Homo sapiens: one gene and its partner. The protein of the gene in region 1 purifies or fractionates together with the protein of each later gene. This does not show direct contact. Each region holds a gene or a part of one and is shown in the gene's direction. Other genes may lie near its edges. The genes, in order: ABLIM1 and NMT1.

Region 1 (10,230 bases):
TTTAATGGTTCTGTTTATGTTAACTCACTTTACCTAGTTCATAAAAACATGACTTATCTAAAAATGGGATTTTTAAAATCGTTTACTCTGTGACATTTGTTCTTTTCACTGAACAATATATCACAGACAGATCAATGTCTGCAACGTAGAGGGCTGTCAATATCCACAATCCAGAGGGCTAAATTCATTCTTTTTAATACCAGCTCCATAGACTGGACATAGCATAATTTATTCAACTATTTTTCTACTAATGAAAGTTTAGATTGTTTCCTGTTGTTTTTCTTTTCCTGCCAATACAAATGTTGTTAAAAAAAATTGTTTTACTACAGCAGAGCCATGCTGAAGGCCAGGTTTTGAGTAGTGATAGCAAGAAGGCAGAGGAGGGAATGGATCAAAGAAACACCTCATTGGGCCAGGAGCAGTGTCTCACGTCTGTAATAACAGTACTTTGGGAGGCTGAGGTGGGCAGATCACCTGTGGTCAGGAGTTCAAGACCAGCCTGGCCAATGTGGTGAAACCCCATCTCTACTAAAAATACAAAAATTAGCCAGGCGTGGTGGCAGGGACCTGTAATCCCAGCTACTCGGGAGGCTGAGACAGGAGAATCGCTTGAACCCAGGAGGCAGAGGTTGCAGTGAGCTGAGATCATGCCACTGCACTCCAGCCTGGGCAACAAAGAGTGAAACTCCATCTCAAAAAAAAAAAAAAAAAGAAAAGAAAGAAAGAAAGAAAAAGAAACACCTCATTGGGGAAATGGGTTGGATTTGGGTCCAGTTGAAGATGTTGATGTTGGCTGGGCGTGGTGGCTGATACCTGTAATCCCAGCATTTTGGGAGGCCGAGTTGGGCAGATCACCTGAGGTTACGAGTTCAACACCAGCCTCACCAACATGGTGAAACCCCATCTCTACTAAAAATACAAAATTAGCCGGGTGTGGTGGCACATGCCTGTAATCCCAGCTACTTGGGAGGCTGAGGCAGGAGAATCGCTTGAACTGGAGAGGTGGAGGTTGTAGTGAGCCGAATTCATGCCATTGCACTCCACCCTGGACAGCAAGAGCGAAACTCCATCTCAAAAAAAAAAAAAACAACAGAAAATGTTGATGTTGATGTAAGAGTTGGAGAATGGATACAGCTACCATTTTGATGAGAAAGGGAATAGAAAAAGAACAGCAGAAGGTTTTATGGGGGATGGCAGAGCAACTGTGAGGAAAGGGTGTGTTTGGAAAATGCTGGGTTTGAGAGAGGCATGGCGGTCTGCCTGTGCCCAGCACACAGCTACAAATCAGGGTCTAAAGCTTGGGGAAGACATCACAGAGAGAGATCATTAATTTGATCATCCCTCGCATAAAGTTATAGTTGAGGTTGTGAGAGTGAATGAGATCTGTTCCCAGGGAGGCCTTACATCATAGAGGGAGGAGATGGCACCCATAGGAGTGACCTGCATTTAGGGGCCTGGCCACTGAGACTGAGAAGGAGTAGACAGAGGAGGAGAAACAGGAAAGTAAAGCCTGGGGAGGCAAGAGAGGGAAGAGTCTGAAATGATGTGACAGCTGGTCCATTTTCAGGAAATGTAATAATGTTAAGTATATTTTAGGTACTGGCATCATAGGCCCCCCTTCTCACTGCTTGTTGCATATGCCTTTAGGAACACCTGCCTCTGGGAGTCACATCAAACACTGGTTTCCTTGTATAAACCACCAGAAATAATGGTATGGTTTGTAAGCCACCTTGAGCACTACTTTAAGGAAAAAGCCAAATCAAATCATAATAAGGCACAGTTTGAATGTAGCTTGGCATCTCTCAGTAGTGTTAAGAATTCATTTTTTAAGGCTATGTTATGTTCACAGAAACTAGGACTTTATTAATAAAGGATACTATATGTCAATTTCACAAAACCATGTGATCTGGAAAAGGCTGCAGACAGGTGCCCTAAGAAAGCAGTAAATACAAATAATTTCTAAAACATTTAGAATTAGCTTTGAAACTATCTCAATCTATTTTTTGTGTATTGCCACCAGATTACCCTTTTGACACCACATCTTTGTATAACGACTCTGCATTTTTAAGCCATAGCTGACTGGAGGAGAGAATTTAGGGAATTACCAGTAGTCTGGATGCATTGTTGTGTCACTTCTCAGGGCTTTGAGAAATCCTAAGTTTGGAAAAATAACTGAGTCATCAGAACTTGATGTCACTGAGGAGTGAAATCAGTGGGAACCTGCCAAGTTTCAGGCAGGATTCAGTTTATTTCAAACATTGTGTTTCCTGTTTTATATTAGATACAATTAGGTTCCTGAAGAAGAATCAAAAGAAGACTCTCACCCCTCAAATACCTTGCCATCTTGTAGAAAAATAAGATCTGCACATAGACAGATATTGAAGAAAACACTCTAAGGTTCTGTGACCCGCTACCCCCAGACTGCCTATTGTTGCTGAAGGAATTTGCAATCAGAATGAGGCCAATCCACACGTGGGTTCCCCTGACCCACAGGACTCATCTGGGGAAGAAGAAGCAGGTGGGAGAACAGTGGGGGCAGAGGAGAGGTTGGCAGGTGAGAGGAGGCAGCAGGTGGTGAATGAGCTGTTTTCCAGATAATATGATCACAGGAGTATTTATAGGGTGGTCAGTTTCAGGCATGATGGACTCAGGCCATAATCTTGGGTTACTTAATTGTAAATTGCAAAGAAGAAGGTCATGGCTGTGGAGTGTTGATCTAAACAAAGACTGATGAATCCACAATGGAAAGTTTGTTTGTGGGTTTTGGATCACCTTGAACGTCTTCCGTAGCTTGTAGTTAGTGAAGAGTCCTGACTGAAGGTGGGGGAGTCGTGACTTTCATCAGAACCTTACTGAAGCCCTAGTTCATCTAGATGAATTAAGGAGTCATGGGAACTCAGCAGATGAACCCTGGGAGCATTCGAGCAGGTCCTTAGGAAAGCAATTTACTGATTGAACTCACCTTGTCCCCACCCCAACTGAATACCAAATAATCAAGAAGAATCCTGGATTCTTTGCCTAAGGAATTATAAATTGGAATCAGTTGACCTTGGGGATAGCAAGGTTAGGGTCAGAGATTTCCAGCTTTGGCTGTTGCTTCTCAGCCATTTGGCAGAGAGAGATCTTTACTGTCAGGGACTGCTTTAGGCTTTATTTGCAGACAAATTGTTGTGACCTACTCTGGTCTTGTCTGAACACGTAGACCAGGCCCAAGCTCCCACTGCCTGTTTGCACCATCTCCCTAATCCACAGCTGCACAGTCGGAAGGAGATGCCAAAATCCAGACACAATAAAGCATCCAAATAACAGGTCTTTCCTCTTTTGCCTGTTTGTTTTTTATCTCTCTATAATATATAAATAATTGGCTTATTCTATTTACTGCACAAAGAAAAAATGAAACATCTGAATTTTTCGTAGCAGTGGAAAGTAGTTCCAGAGTGTGAAAAAATACAGCTATCGGAAATTTCAGCTACTGCCTTTGGTATAATGGAAATTTATTACTCAACTCCTAACAATCTTGGCCCAAACCATGTGGTTGTGTGGGCAGGCAGTGGGCACCTTTCCTAAATAGCACACTGCCAGGGACACCTTTGCTCATATTTGAGACAGCCTGAATGAAGGGTATCTTTCTATCAAAGACTGTTTGATTATCTCAGAATTTTAGACATATCACAAAAGCTGTTGAGACCTAGCCAGTGGATTTTACTTGTATGAGATATTGCATAGCTCCCAAAGGGAGGGTCAGAGCCCAATAATAAATAGCTCTTTGTAGCCATCCCCTCCCTAGCCCCAAACCATTGAGATCACAGGGTGAGCAACCAGTCAGTATTCACTCAAAGGCAGTGCTGCCCGGCAGTGTGGCAGATAATGACCAGATGTGAACTTGTCTCTCTACAGTGTGTGGCTGTGACCTGGCACAAGGGGGCTTCTTCATAAAGAACGGAGAGTATCTCTGCACCCTGGACTACCAGCGGATGTACGGGACACGCTGCCATGGCTGTGGGGAGTTCGTGGAGGGCGAAGTGGTGACTGCTCTGGGCAAGACCTACCATCCCAATTGCTTTGCTTGTACTATCTGCAAGTAAGTGAGCCTATCTTTCCAAAGCCTACACCTTCCTCCAACAGAGAAATGCTGGTTTGGGCTGTTAAAGGTTGGATTATACACCTTTTGTCTTGAGTAGCACATACTCTTATCCTTAGATTTCTTTCTTACTGTACTATCAGTCCTAGTAAAAAAAGTAGATTAGTTGGAAACTGTATGTGTGATGTCCTCTACAAAGTAATATGACTGATTTTTAGTAGATTGAAACTAATTCTGAAAGCAGCTCTGGGTCTCAAAACATTTTGGAGCAATAAAAACATCAGGGGGAAATGGCATAACTGCTTAGAAGGATAAAGCTTATTTGGAAGTATAAATTCCTAGGCATGTGTGTGTGTTTAAAATGGTCTCTTTCATCTATAATAGGCGGTGGCAAACTGTGTCCCATGGGCTGAATTAGGCCTGATACCTGTTTTTGTGGATAAAGTTCTATTGGAACACAGCCACTCCCACTTGTGTGTGGCCTATAGCTGCTTCCACGCTGCAACAACAGAGTTGAGTCATTGCGACAGAGACCATATGGTCCGCAAAGTCTTAAAAAATTTACAATCTCATCTTTGGGGGGAAATATTTGCCAACCCTGTTCTCTATGTATCTGTCATCTACCAAGGTTGTATCTTAACTGTGCAAACCAGCTTGATTAAAATGATCAGTCAGGCTGGGCGTGGTGGCTCACCCTTATAATCCCAGCACTTTGGGAGGCCGAGGCAGGTACATCACCTGAGCTCAAGAGTTTGAGACCAGCCTGGCCAACATGGTGAAACCCTGTCTCTACTAAAAATACAAAAAAATTAGCCAGGCGAGGTGGCAGGTGCCTGTAATCTCAGCTGCTTGGGAGGCTGAGGCAGGAGAATGGCTTGAACCCGGGAGGCGGAGGTTGCAGTGAGCCGAGATCGTGCCACTGCACTCCAATCTGGGTGACACAGCAAGACTCCATCTCAAAAAAAATAAAATAAAATAAATAATAAAATGATCAGTCAGAGAACAAGAAAACTATGTGAAGTGTGAGTGGGAAAATGTGGGGCTTTTTGTGGTTTTTGTGTTTTGAGGTCTGCATGTTATAAAACTTAAGATAGGTTTGATTCCTGTAACTAGGAGACTCACCACCAAGGGTCAGCTGCTTTATTGATCAATTCTAATTTGGCAATTTTGCAATCCAGTGCCTTTTCAAGTGGAGATCTATTTGCTATGCCTTTCTAAAAACCCCAATTCAGAGGAGACGTGTTGTCTGTTTTTCAGCATTGTATGTTTCTAAGCCAGAGAGATGTAAGCTCTAGAAGGGAAGATTCAATATTGTGTAATTAATTAACAAGATAATACTGATAAATCATAATAAGACACAAAATATTCATAATAAAATTATTTAAATAACTTTATAGCTATGTATTAGCTCATTTCTCTATTTCATTTTTTTAAATCATAATTTAATAATTCTGGATGAATGAACTGAATATTTTTCTGTATTTAATCAAAAGCAAAGTTCTGCCCTGATTTTTCCCTTTTCAGGCTGTGGCACACAGCCTGGTTAAGAGTCCTGGGCTGGCATGGAGCCCCAAGTCCCAGTCTTACTTCCCAGGTTGAATTGAGACCTATGTGATTTAGCTTTTTCCAGACAATTGCCTCCACCTTAGAATGAGAAGCTGTGAACTAGATGCGAGTCATTTTTCAAGCCTCGCTCATCACTGGAATCTCCTGGATGGGTGGGAGTGGACTAGAGATGGGAGTCTCTCCACAAAGATCAATTTCTAGCCTATTTTCCCCCAAAACCTGCATGCTAATTTAGTAGTTTCTGGAGGGTTCTCATGTATGTTGTCAGTCAGCCAGGTTGGAAGGCCGTGTTCCCAGTAAACTCTAAGAGCCCTTCTGATCCTGACCCTGAGAGGTCATTGCTTTGAAGTTGGTATAATGATAAAAAACGATTTATTAACTATGGCCCTGTCCCTGGACATTTGAGCCAGCAAAGGAGCACTTACTGCTACTGCCTCTACTGCTGCCGAATGACGATAATTCTGTCTGAATTGGGGCCTCCTTTTTAGTTGAGAAGTTATATTCATACAGAAGTTAATTTCACCCTCTTAGCAATTCTTTGAAGGGAACCAGGAGTTAATATCTCTATTTATGAGTGACTTTGAGGCTCACGGTTTAAGGGACATTCCCAAGTTAACGTTAGAACTCAGGTTTTCTAACTCTAAATCCAGGTCTCTTTCTATTATAAACATTCATGCAAATAAAAGAAGGAAGTTATCCAGTATGGGCAGAGGATATAGGGAGGGAGGAAATTACTGAAAAGGGCCATTTACAAAACAACAAAACCCACCCTTCAGAAGGCCCAGCCCAAGTTGAGAACTGGATTCTGGCTTGTCCCATAGAGGATTCGTGTGGGACTTGGGTCTAAAATAATAAGCTTGGATGGGAAGGAAGGCTTGGGCTTGGGTGGGGTAAGCGAGGTGCCTCTGGGCATGCAACAGGTAAAGGGCACTTATTCTCAGGGTCCTGCAAGTGCAGGGTCAGCCACGGAGCACGAGTGCCTCTTTAAACGCTGTGTCTGGGTCCACTCCTGGCCTGGTCGGAGGCAAAAGAACCTGTGCGTGTTGTGTTGAATGGATCCTTAACTTCCTGACTCCCTCCTTACAGAACAGATTTAAGACTTGTTCAGGTTTAGCTAATGAGTGTGAAGCAGTAGGGCTACTGGCATCCAGCAGAGGGTGATTTTTGATTCTTAAAAATAAAACAAGTTCTAAGTTGGTGGATGCCATCTGCACCTGCCTATGGCTTGATCTCCCTAGCTGGTCAGTCCAGGCATGTCACTTCACCTCTCTGAGCCTTCACTGTACTGCCGAAAGTGACACAGCATCACAAGTGGAGAGGACACCACCTCTCCTCGGGACTTCTAAAATGTAAGGGTGTAAGAATTTAAAACTCTCTGTGATGACTGGAGCCAGCCACATTTGTGGGGTTAACTCCAAATTTACCTATATGTTGTTTATTACAGTTAATTGCCAATTGTTAGGCTACTGAGGGGCAACTTAAAGGGAATGTAGCAGCTGTGGAAGTAAAAATGAATGTCAAAAAGCTGGTACTTGCTCTTAAGTAATTGCTTCTAACTAAGATTTGTGGTGATGTTCAGCTTGTGAGTTTCACGTTTCCTAATTGGCAGCATCACACATTTGAAAAATCACTTTAATGAAGATTATTGGTACATAGGCCAAGGGCAAGTGAGTGGGCATGGAAACTGTCATATGTCTGTTCATTAATGACTTGTTTAAAGGGCTCTCTGCCTGGTGACCTGGGAGAAGAAACTGATTATCTACATGCAGAAGGCAATATTTTTGCAAAATGTGCTGCTATTGATGAATATCTACTATGAAGAGAAATTGTCTTTCTGAAAAGAAGCTAATATGAATTCTTAAACAGATATTTACAGCCTGTCCCATTTCTCCCAGTTTATAAGGGACTGGGTCTCCAGCACCATGAAACGTTCCGTTCACCCATGTAGGTGTCCAGCACAAAGTCTAATCCTGCATAATCATCACAGAGGTCTAGGCACGGTCCCAGGGAACTGAAAGACCCACTGCTTACTGCTTGACCTGTAGCCAGGTCTCCTGGGGCAGGGCCTTAAGCTTCACTGGGAATTCATGGTATTTAAAATATTTTTTCATGAAGGACTTTCCATTTGGAAACTTACTGTTCTGTGTGCCCTGCTAGATCACTTGCTGGAATATCCCTTCACTAATGAATGGAGGTAAATCATTCCATTTTACTACCTGGTTGCCCTTAGAACCAGTACATTCCCCTTTCTTCTCAAAATGAGGCACATTTATTTGTTTGGACTGTCTCCAGCTGGCTGGCTTGGTTATGACTGCATTTCAGACATGTTGGCTGCTGCTTCTCCAAGAAATAAATGGGCACCGGAGGGCAGCAAGCAGAAGGAATAAGGAAAAGGAATGAAATTGCTGCAATAACCTTGAGGGCGATGTCTTTCTGCCTCCAGGCGCCCGTTTCCACCCGGAGACCGAGTCACATTCAATGGGAGAGACTGCCTTTGTCAACTCTGTGCACAGCCGATGTCGTCCAGTCCGAAAGAAACCACCTTCTCCAGCAGTAAGTGCCCCGGTGACCCACTGACGTGAATACCTATGTAGTCCAGAGGTAGCTCAGGCAGGTGCCTTCCTTTTTGAGAAACGCTGTTAGCTGGAAATGAGAGTCATCTATCTACTTGAATAGATATTTCTCCAAAGATGACATTAAAATGGCCAACAGGTACATGAAAAGGTGCTCAATGTTATAAGTCATCAGGGAAATGCAAATCAAAACAACCATAAGATACCAACTTATACCTGTTAAGATAGCTATTATGAAAAAGACAGGAGATGACGAGCATCAGCCTAGGTGTGGAGAAAAGGGAGCCCTTGAACACTGTTGGTAGGAATGTAGATTCTTGACGTAGGCATCATGGAAAACAGCATGGAGGCTCCTAAAGAAATTAAAAATAGGCCAGGTGTGGTGGCTTATGCCTGTAATCCCAGCACTTTGGGAGGCTGAGGCGGGAGGATTGCTTGAGCCTCATTTAAAAACAGCTTGGGCAACATGACAAAATCCCGTCTCTACAAAAAATGCAAAAAGTAGCTGTGTATGATAGTGCACGTCTGTAGTCCCAACCACTTGGGAGGCTGAGATGGGAGGATAGCTTGAGCCTGGGAGGCGAAGGTTGAGGTTGCAGTGAGCTGAGATTGTACCACTGCACTCCAGCCTGTGTGACAAAGCTAGACCATCTCAAAAAAAAAAAAAAAAAAAAAAAAAACCCAGAAAAATAGAACTACCATGTGACCCAGAAATTCCTTTGCATACACAAAAATATCTAATATGTGAAAAAAATTAAAGTAGGAATAAAATTAAAGCAGAATAAAAGAGCTGCACTTATATGGGGCAGAGAAGACTTCTCTCAAATATGACACCTAAGGAGAGGTTTGAAGAAAGTGTGGGAAAAAGCTGCACATATATCTGGGGACTTGTCATTATTTACAAGGTCTTGTCTGACCTGTCAGAATCCATAGAGAACCTACTTACCCCCAAATAAAAAGAGTGGCCAATTGCACCATTTCTTCTGGAAAATAACATCGAGTAGGTCAGTTAACACACATTTGAAGTTGATGCATTATGAACTGTGGGCACCAAGCAAGGAAGCTCTACTCCCATCTCTTTCCTGGGACATTAGGAAGTGAACTAGAGGTTTGCCTTGGGTTCTGTGGCTTTTGCCAGTCCTTGGGAGATTTGGAATAAACCTCTTTAAGCCCTTAAGTGAGTCTTAATACGTAAGGATGAGATAAACCACTTCTGCACCAGAGAAATTCAGTGCAATTTATAATAGTGATTCCAAATCTTCCTATTAGAGAGAAGTGTTATACTTGTTAAAAAGAAGAATGTTCTGACTAAAGCATTTGCATAGAAATTGGATTTTTGACCATTGGGAGGAAAGAAGAAAATACACATATTAGCACATGTTATTCAGCACACATGACTGGATCCTTGGCGTGTGAATTTATGTGACCTTCCGACAAATAACAGCAGCTTGGGTAGGATGACAGCTACAAAGCAAGGCACCATCCTAGACCCCTAGTAGGGTTTCAACTCCTTCACCATTCTTGCTACCCTGCCCCAAACACAAGAGATACAGTTAGCCTCTGGTCACTGGGAAGGTAACCTCCAGTGGGAATTGTCACCCCATTATTTGGGAGGGCTTGCTTTGAAAGTACATTACCAAAAACTTTGAAGGAATTCTTGTCCAGTTAAGAAAAAGAGGCCCTGTAATCCCAGCACTTTGAGAGGCTGAGACGGGCAGATCACGAGGTCAGGAGTTCAAGACTAGCCTGTCCAACATGTTGAAACCCCATCGCTACTAAAAATACAAAAATTAGCCGAGCGTGGTGGCGGGTACCTGTAATCCCAGCTACTCGGGAGGCTAAGGCAGGAGAATCCCTTGAAACCGGAAGGCAGAGGTTGCAGTGAGCCGAGATCGCGCCACTGCACTCCAGCCTGGGCAACAAGAGCAAAACTCCATCTCAAAGAAAAAAAAAAAAGAAAAAGAAAAAGAGGCTTTTATGATTTTTATGAGTTCCAGAATATGGTGATAG
Region 2 (10,230 bases), on another chromosome or scaffold:
GGAGACTGAGGTGGGAGGATCGTTTGAGTCCTGGAGGTCGAGGCTGTAGTGAGCCATGATCGTGCCACTGCACTCTAGCCTGGGTGACAAAGCGAGTCCCTGTCTCAAAGATTAAAAAATAAATAAATAAAAATGAAAGGCCTTCTTAGCAGAAGTGTTTTAGTCTGTGTAACAACTGTAAGAGCCGCAGATGAACTTTTGATCCCCCACTCGAGATCATGTCGTTCTTCTTTTTAAAGTCACCCCTTTCCCACTCATGTCAACGGAAGCAGTATCCTTTTCTGTCTTTGGTCAGTGGAATGCAGTGTGGCCACTCTGTTTTAAAAAGTCACTATCAAAGGGAGGATGTGCACTCACCTGGTTTCCATGGGTCCCAGAGAGAAGCTTCCCCTCTCTTTTTCCTCTCCTTGGCCTTTGTTTGGTTTAATGTTTTCCGCATCTCAGACATTCTCATTTCTCCGAAGTCCTTCACAGTTGCACCGCATTGCTTAGTTTTGGGTCTCTGATGTTTGATGTCATGGAGAGAATTTTGAGGGAAGAGTGTGCAGAAAGAAACCCATTGAAAGCTCAGGGTTTTCTTTAAACTTCCAGATTCTTTTAAAGCAAGTTCGAAGTGTCATCCTTAGTCATTTATTGGTTCATGTTGGCCTTGAGAGAATCAGCTGCATTCTTGCTGTGCTCTGCAGAGCAGCCTTCCACCCCTGCTCAGCAGGAGGTACTCAAAGGCCATTGTAAGGGAGAAGGCAGGCTGCTCCCCACAGAGCAGGACAAGCAGAGGCCATGATGCTGGCACCACACCGAGGACAGCACAGGAGCCTTGGGCTGCTTCTTGGCATCGAGGGCACTCCACAGTGGGAGTCTAGTAAAAGTGGCTGCTCCCTTTTCAGTGTTTCCTGTAGCTCTACTTTTTCACACCCACCCTGCCCCACATAGTCCACCTGCAGCCTGGCTGATTCCTAATTATCCTTGAGGTCTTGTCGTTAGATATTTCCTCTGAGAGGTCTTTCCTGACACACACACACACACACACACACACACACACACACACACACACACACACGTCCCATAGCACCCTGTACTTCATTCTTACTGGCCCTCACCATGCCGGGTGGCATGTGCATCCTTGCTCATCTCTTTGGTGTCCATGATGGTGAGGACCTGTGTCTGTTTCATTCGCCAGCCCCTGCCACAGAACTGGCACATTCTAGGATTCAGTGAACACTTGGTGAAGGAGTGAGTGAATGGAAGTGCCTGTTGCGTGTAGGACCTAGTAGCCAGCCTAAATGAGAAGATTTAGCCTTGAGGTTATTTTAGTACAATAGGGAAGACCATCAGTATTCTTGGCCATGGAAATAATTCAGGGGGAAAAAAAGAAGGTTCTGAAGTGTATAGGAAAAGGTATAAATTCAATACAAGTTGGGAAATTAGCACCTAGATAAGACTAGAGGGTCTGGCCCTCAGTTTTGTAGGCTCAAAAATGTTTTTTTAATATACATAGCTGTCAGTTGGAAGCGGATTGACTTAAATTCACAAGAGCTACTTTATGAATAATCAAATGGTGGGTTTTGGCTGGGCGCCGTGGCTCATGCTATAATCCCAGCATTTTGGGAGGCCAAGGCAGGAGGATCACTTGAGTCTAGGAGTTTGAGACCAGCCTGGGCAACAGTGAGACCTCATCTCTATGAAAAATAAAATTAGCCAGGCGTAGTGGCGCATGCCTATAGTCCCAACCACTCGAGAGGCTGAGATGGGAGGATCGTTTGGGCCTAGGAGGTCGAGGCTGTAGTGAACCAAGGTTACGCCACTGCATTCCAGCCTGGGCAACAGAGCAAGACCCCATCTCGCCAGTCATGAGTTTCCTAACTAGGGAAGAAAAATATGACCTCTCTCCCAAGCAAACCTGTTGGGAAGCCTGATTACCAACAGAGCAGGCTGCTTCCCTGTTGTGTGTCCCTGCACTTTCCAGATCCTGACCTGCAGCACGTGGATAATGACTCATTTATTTACTATTTCCCCAGAAGATGGTATGTCTCATGAGGACAGGGACTTGGTCCTTTTTCCTGCTGTACACTAGGGGCTGGCATGGTCACTGAGTCACTGGTGCACGGTTGGTGCTCAGTAATGTGTCTGATGGAAGAGGGTGAGATGATCAGTGCCAGCGGTGGTGTCGTGTGCTGCAGCCTGATGCAGCCCTTTCCACCACACTTGCCCCACAGATTATCATTCTGGGAAGGTCTAGAGCTTCCTGTTACATGTTAGAATGAAATGTTTGGACTTTGGGAGGCCGAGGCGGGTGGATCACTTGAGGCCAGGGGTTTGAAACCAGCCTGGCCAACATGGTGAAACTCCATCTCTACTGAAAAAAAAAAAACAAAACACCAAAATTAGCCAGCGTGGTGGCGGACACCTGTAATTCCAGCCACTCGGGAGTCTGAGGCAGGAGAATTGCTTGAACCAGGGAGGTGAAGGTTGCAGTGAGCCAAGATCGCACCACTGTACTCCAACCTGGGCGACAGAATGAGACTGTCTCAAAAAAAAAAAAAAGAAAAGAAAAGAAAAAAAAAATATTTGGGATCAGGAGTCTGAAAGTCAGTAAAAGCATGAATTGAGTGCCTAGTCTATACAGAGCCCTTTGCTAGGAACACTGTTACTGGGTTGGTCCCTTTTGAAGACTCCATTTTCCAAAATGCACTAAACATTGCATTCTTCCCAGTGTAAACATGAGTGAGCCCATTGTAGAACCGAAATCATCCCAAGGGCCAGAATTCAGTGGTGAATCTCTCAGCATATATGAGTCCGATTGAGCTCTGGATAGGAATGAGGGCTGTGTCTTTGGAGCACTCCCCACATGCTCCCACAGAGGAGGGGCCTATCCTGCTCAGGGAGGGGATGTTGTGTCAGGGTGACTTCCCGGCAGCACTATGTAGACTTGGTGATTCAGCCCAAAGGCACTTGCAGGACTCTAAACACTGAGGGCCTGAGTTGGCAGTAGCAGTTAACTGGCTCACGCTGCTGAAAGCCAAGGCTGGCAGGGCCACGATTGAGCCTGGCGCCTAGAAGCCATCATCTGGTTCAGAAATGGGCCCAGTACATTGTTGTTGCTGTTGACACAAAAGCAGCCTTGTTGTGACTCCTTACAAACCCATCCAGACTGATGGGCCTGGGCCAGGGCCCTGACAGCACTCTTTACACCAACCAGGAGGCAGGAAGCCAAATTACTAAAGATAAATGTTTGTCATTCAGTGACCCAAGGGAGATTTAAATGGATTTCCAAAACACGAACCACCTTGGATCCCAGTGATTGTCCTGAGGTTTTGCCATGAATTGGCCCTCAGTTAGGGGCTAAGGGTAGCTGGAAAGACGGTTTGCAGTTGCCAAGCACAGAATGTTCTTCAGATAGAGGGCTCCTAGGGACAGGAGGAATTTGCTCTGGTTGAGTTTTGAACTGAGCCCTTTACTGCCCCGAGGGGGCAAAGGGTGAGGCTCACAGCTGTGCTCTTCTTTCAGGCGAAGTGGTGAACACCCATGGCCCCGTGGAGCCTGACAAGGACAATATCCGCCAGGAGCCCTACACCCTGCCCCAGGGCTTCACCTGGGATGCTTTGGACCTGGGCGATCGTGGTGTGGTGAGTGGGCCCTCAGAAGGTTACACCTGCGGGTAGGAGCCACTTTCACAGTAAGCCCTGCAGTCTCACCTAGACTACGTTTACTCGAGCCCTAGAGAGCTGAGCCAAGGAGGTCTGAACAGACTCCCGTCTGTAACTTCCTGGGGCATGGCCAAGACTCCACATAAATAGCTCTTAGCTTTTCTGGCAGGTTGGAAGTTAACCTCTGTAGGTCCCCGATGTGGATACCTGTTTTTCATTTATTCTTTTTTGTTCATTCATTTCCTCATTTTCTTTCTAGTCTGTCTCCTGACTGGAGCAGCTGGGGCTGCTAAATGAGGCCCTGTCCTCCCCTTTCCACCCCGGCCACCCAGAGCCCCTTGTTTTGACCTGAGGGATTTATTTCCCTTATAAAGAATGATGAAAATGTCGCCGGGCGTGGTGGCTCACACCTGTAATCCCACCGTTTTGGGAGGCTGAGGCAGGCGGATCATGAGGTCAGGAGTTTGAGACCAGTCTGACCAACATAATAAAACCCCATTTCTACTAAAAATACAAAAAATTAGCCAGGTGTGGTGGTGTACGCCTGTATCCCAGCTACTCAGGAGGCTGAGGCAGGAGAATCTCGTGAACCTGGGAGGGGGATGTTGTAGTGAACTGAGATCTCACCATTGCACTCCAGCCCAGGTGACAGTGCGAGACTCTTTGTCTCAAAAAAAAAAAAAAGTCAACAGAATTTTTTTTTTTTTTGAGATGGAGTCTCGCTCTGTTGCCCAGGCTGGAGTGCAGTGACACCATCTCAGTTCACTGCAGTCTCTGCCTCCTGGGTTCAAGCGATTCTCCTGCCTCAGCCTCCCGAGTAGCTGGGATTACAGGTGAGTGCCACCACGCCCAGCTAATTTTTATATTTTTAGAAAAGATGGTGTTTCACCATGTTGGCCAGGCTGGTTTCGAACTCCTGACCTCAGGTGATCTGCCCATCTTGGCCTCCCAAAGTGCTGGGATTACAGGCAATGAGCCACTAGGCCTGGCTTTTTTTTTTTTTTTTGAGACAGAGTCTGGTTCTGTTGCCCAGGCTGGAGTGCAGTGGCGCGATCTTGGCTTACCCCAACCTCCACCTTCCAGGTTCAAGTGATTCTCCTGCCTCAGCCTCCCAGGTAGCTGAGATTACAACCATCTGTCACCATGCATGGATAATTTTTGTATTTTTAGTAGAGATGGGGTTTCACTGTGTTGGCCAGTCTGGTCTCGAACTCCTGACCTCATGATCCACCCATCTCGGCCTCCCAAAGTGCTGGGATTACAGGCATGAGCCACTGCGCCCAGTCTTTTTTTTTTTTTTGAGATGGAGTCTTGCTCTGTTGCTCAGACTGGAGTGCAATGGCACAATCTTGGCTCACTGCAACGTCCACCTCCTGTGTTCAAGCAATTCTCCTGCCTCAGCCTCCCCAGTGGCTGGGATTACAGGTGTCTGTCACCACGCCAGGCTAATTTTTTTATTTTTTAGTAGAGATGGGGTTTCACCACATTGGCCAGGCTGGTCTTAAACTTCTGACCTCAGGTGATCCGCCCACCTCAGCCTCCCAAAGTGCTGGGATTACAGGCTTGAGCCACCACACCGGGCCAACAGAATTTTTTAATACCAAAGTTGGGCCAGCAGATGGAGATAGCTGAGAAGGCAGAAAAAGGCCTTTGTGGTTGGGTGTGGTGGCTCACACCTGTAATTCCAACAATTTGGGAGTCTAAGGTGGGAAGATCGATTGAGCCCAGGAGTTCAAAATCAATCAGCCGGGTCAATATAGTGAGACTGCCCCCGCTACAAAAGAAAAAAATTTAATAATTAGCCGGACATGGTAGTATGCCCCAGTAGTCTCAGCTACCCAGGAGGCTGAAGTAGGAGGATCGCTTGAAACCAGGAGTTGGAGGCTGCAGTGAGCCATGATCACACCAGTGCACTCCAGCCTGGGTAACAGAGTGAGACTCTATCTTGAAAAGAAAGGAAAAAAGGCCTTTGTTTGGGCCAGATGGTAAAAAATCAGACAAGGTGGGAAACAGCAGTGACTCTCCGTGGTAATTCCTTGACTAGCTTCGAGAGTCGTCCCTCTATAGCACTTCACAGAAGTTGAGACCAGTGGCTCTCCATTGTTGATGGCGCAGAATGATGAAGTGGTTGGTTAGTTAGGTGGCATTCTCGGTCTGCCACTCTACCACGTGATGGCTCAGTTTTCTACTATAACTAGGGTGTTTGCTCCAAGAGTTCCTACCATGCCAGGGGGCAGAAGGATTTGTGAGACTCCACGTCGTTTTTGGTAGTTTGCTTCATCCTTCTGAAAAGCCTAGAGCCCCAGGGTATTGGAGTTGGTCTACTACCTGGCAGAATACCTCCAAGTGAGCTGCTTATTTCTTTACAGCTAAAAGAACTGTACACCCTCCTGAATGAGAACTATGTGGAAGATGATGACAACATGTTCCGATTTGATTATTCCCCGGAGTTTCTTTTGTGGTAAGTTGTGGGGGCTTTCTTGAGGTTCTTGAGAGGAAGGCATAGAGCAGATCCACCAGAGGGCACCAGAGTTTTCATCCCTGCCAGGGGCCAACCTTTGAATGGCAAATTAGTGTGTCATTTTTGAGTTCCTGCATCTGAAGGACACTTGCTTTCATTAGCACTTAGAATTGCAGCCTTGTTTAAGACAATTGACTGGGTGAGGGAGACCTTCGTAGAGCTAGTACCCAGGGAAGAGGTATTCATTGTCTGGTGACTTTATATAAGAAAGGAACGGGCATGAGACCTACTAAGACTGAAAGAAAAGAAGGCACATTTTCTATCTAGTTCCTGAGCATGCTCAGTTGTATAGCCTTGCCTGGCTGAGCCATCCACCTGCCCAGGCCACGTTTAATATCCAGGAAGAGAGAGGCATGGGCCGAAATGGAGAGGGACTACCTGAAAGGGAAGGAAGAATTTGTACCAGAAAGAGGGAGACAGGACACCAGAGCTCCAGGGTTGCCACAGTCAGCTCTCAACCATGGGACCCACTGGCCTCCGAACCAAAGATGCCAGTACCTTGGTTCAAGCTGTCAAAGTGAACACAGAAATTGGATCAGGCATGAAATCCTCAGTATGATAACCTTGGGTTGGATGAGTAACTAGGCCAAATGGGATGAGCAGCCAGAAATGGTGATGGCTCGATTCTGTGTGTCCAGGAGGGCTTGGCCCTAAAGAGAATCCAGCTATTAACCCTCAGGGAGGTGGTAGCACCAGGTCCGAACCAAATTTGGCTGTGGAGCCCAAGCGGCTTGTCCAGCCTGCCGGCAAGCAGCACAACCACCCCAGCCTCTCTTTTCCAGGGCTCTCCGGCCACCCGGCTGGCTCCCCCAGTGGCACTGTGGGGTTCGAGTGGTCTCAAGTCGGAAATTGGTTGGGTTCATTAGCGCCATCCCAGCAAACATCCATATCTATGACACGTAAGCACCTGCACCTACCCCCACCCCCCACAACACCGCCATCCTGCTTGGTCTGGGAGAGAGTAGAAAAAGGCTGCACAATGTGCCCCATGAAAGGAAGAGGGAAGGTCTCAGGAAGGGAGGATGCCCAGGTGCGGGGACTGCAGATTCATCCTAGGAACCACCTGTTCTGCTCAGAGTCCCAGCCAGCTCCCTTGTTTGTGGCCCAGGTTGGAAGGAGCCCACCCTGAGGCCTGGTGTGCCTGCTCAGCAGAGGCTTGTTTTTGTTTTTGTTTATTATTTTTTACATTTTATAGAGGCAAGGTCTTGCTATGTTGCCCACGCTAGTCTCAAACTCCTGAGCTCAAGTGATCCACTCACCTCTGCCTCCCAAGAGTGTTGGGAATATAGACGTGAGCCATTGTGCCTGGCCAGAGGCTTTTCTTAGTCTCACTCTGTTGCCCGGGCTGGAGTGCAGTGGTGCGATCTTGGTTCACTGCAAGCTCCACCTCCAGGGTTCAAACGATTCTCCTGCCTCAGCCTCCCAAGTAGCTGGGATTACAGGCATGCGCCACCACACCTGGCTAATCAGAGGCTCATTTTTGAACGCCTGTACCAGTCACACATGGAAGCACTTGAACAGCAGCAGAAATGGGCCAGAGCGAGTGTGACCCAGATTCAGATAGTCCTTGGGGCCTGTGATCTCTGCTCTTCATTTTCCCTGGAAGTGTTGAAACCATCTGCCTGCCACAGTCTTCAGGGCTTATTACCAGCTGTGTTCTTGAGGGAATCAGAACCCTTGAAACCCTAGAATTGCCTTGACCTGCCCCGTGGGTTCCCTGTGCTGCTTCCCTGCATGCTAAAGGTGGGATTCCCCAGCCAACTCCTAGGGACTCATCAGGGAGATGCTGGTGGTACCTTCAAATAAAGGTGTTTGCTTGGGTCCCACCTTCCTTTGGAAATAGATTCTGTTGAAGTGAGGCAGGCTCCTTGCCTGGTGGAGTGTGGTGGGGAGTCCCAGTACTGAGTGCAGGTGGCAGCTAAAAGTACACCCGTGCTGCAGACCTGGTCCTTCTAGGTGTGGCTGCACGTGCTTGATGGGATCACCATTCCCTTCCCTGTTAAAAACCTTGTCACCTGGATTTTTCCCCCTCTTAGAGAGAAGAAGATGGTAGAGATCAACTTCCTGTGTGTCCACAAGAAGCTGCGTTCCAAGAGGGTTGCTCCAGTTCTGATCCGAGAGATCACCAGGCGGGTTCACCTGGAGGGCATCTTCCAAGCAGTTTACACTGCCGGGGTGGTACTACCAAAGCCCGTTGGCACCTGCAGGTAAAACTGTCTTCCTGTAAGGCCCCAAAAATGCGGGTGTCTGCACTGTAGTTGAGGAGCATGTGCCACTGTGAGTCACAGCTCCGCCCTTAGCATCCCACCTCTGGCGTATCTGGTAAGGCGGGCACTTGGTGCCTGCAGGAGCCAGATGGGGAGCATGGAGAGGGCGGGAGGGTTGTAGGGATGGCAGATTGGCAAGTCCCTGCCTTGTCTGGAGGGCTCTTGGTGTCTGCTGGCTGCTGCCATTTGGAGATGGTGGGGGGCGGTACTGGTGGTTTGTTTTTGTTTTTAGGGATGAGCCCAAATCTGGATTTTTATGGGAAATGTCCTAAAGTTTTAAATGGTTGGCTCAAATTGTTTTGAATATTGTGTGCACCAAATAGAGCAAGTCAGCTATGTGATCTAAGGGCAACCTCTGCCTTAGAAAGTTGTTTAAAACAATTGAATAATCTCTCCTTAGAGAACTTTAAAAGTAAAAACACCAGGTGTGAAAGCAGAAGGGGAGGAGGGAGGAGGGTGAGTGCCTCTGCCATCATCTTCTGGGCATGACTACAGTCCTTTTCCGTTGACTTGATTCTAGGAGTGAGGATTGGTCTCCCCAGACAACCGCTGTAGCAAAGGAATAGTTTTTGAAATTGAGCAAGAAAAATAGGGAGAAAGAAAATCCAGGAGGAGCTTTGGCAGCACTCACTGTGGGGAGGGGGAGGCTGGAGAGCAGGGTGACACCACTGACTCCGGAGGCACCTGATGTGTCTCTCACGCCACCTGCTGGCCAGCTGGGGTCTCCCTGCCATTGTCCTTGTAATAGGGATTGGCCAGAACCCTGAGGACAGGACATTTGTGTCCCCACAGGTATTGGCATCGGTCCCTAAACCCACGGAAGCTGATTGAAGTGAAGTTCTCCCACCTGAGCAGAAATATGACCATGCAGCGCACCATGAAGCTCTACCGACTGCCAGAGGCCAGTGCTGCCCCGGGTGGTGGGCAGGGGGCAGAGAGAGGGCAAGGAGAGCCTGGCTGTCAGCAGGAGAGAAGGGCTCTGGGTGGAGAGGGAGCTTTCTCCTACTGGAAAAGCGAACCAGCCCATAGTCTTCAGATTTCCTGGACTTTCTATTTCTGTTATCTGAAGCAGGATTTTATTTTAGTTTAACTTTCTCAGTTCCTCTGAGTCTGTGCCTGGACTAGCTTCTCTGCCATCTGTTGAAAGGCTCAGAGAACACCTATTCTCTGTAATTTTAGCCTAAGTAAAGCATAAATAGAATGATGAATCCACTTAGTGAACCTTCATACACACGGCAGCGCGTTCCAAAGCCCAGCGCAGATGCACTACAGGGTCTGTGACGCCCCTCTGCCGGGTCAGGTAAAGGGTGACCTGAGCTTGTGAGGGATCCCCGATTTCTAATCCCAATTTCCCCACCCAGATTTGGCTGAAGGACTGGGCAACCTTAAAGTGAGCTGCTTTTCTGTTCTGGGTCTCAGTTTTCCTAGTTTCCCAAAGAAACAAATGCTCCAACTGTGGCTGGCTTCAGGTAGGGATTCTTTTTTTTTTGTTTTGAGACAGGGTCTCATTCTGTTGCCCAGGCTGGAGTGCAGTGGCACAGTCACAGCTCACTGCAGCCTCGACCTCCCAGACTCAACTGATTCTCCCACCTCAGCCTCCCAAGTAGCTGGGACTACAGGCGTGTGCCGCCATGCCCGGCCAATTTTTGTTTTTATAGAAACGGGGTTTTGCTGCCAGGCGCAGTGGCTCACGCCTGTAATCCCAGCACTTTGGGAGGCTGAGGTGGGCAGATCACGAGATCAGGAGATCAAGACCATCCTGGCTAACACGGTGAAACCCCGTCTCTAGTAAAAA

What was found.
Region 2: the proteins of ABLIM1 (region 1) and NMT1 purify together in Homo sapiens (affinity purification with mass spectrometry; 3 studies listed by BioGRID and IntAct, with this or other methods). This does not show direct contact.

What each region holds. Positions count from the first base shown.
Region 1 is NC_000010.11:114,569,267-114,579,496, reverse strand, and holds part of ABLIM1 (actin-binding LIM protein 1), read left to right. Parts: intron 1-3,897; coding exon 3,898-4,081; intron 4,082-8,090; coding exon 8,091-8,200; intron 8,201-10,230. UniProt on the Homo sapiens protein: May act as scaffold protein. May play a role in the development of the retina. Has been suggested to play a role in axon guidance.
Region 2 is NC_000017.11:45,090,178-45,100,407, forward strand, and holds part of NMT1 (glycylpeptide N-tetradecanoyltransferase 1), read left to right. Parts: intron 1-3,507; coding exon 3,508-3,626; intron 3,627-6,016; coding exon 6,017-6,108; intron 6,109-6,950; coding exon 6,951-7,067; intron 7,068-8,204; coding exon 8,205-8,375; intron 8,376-9,227; coding exon 9,228-9,336; intron 9,337-10,230.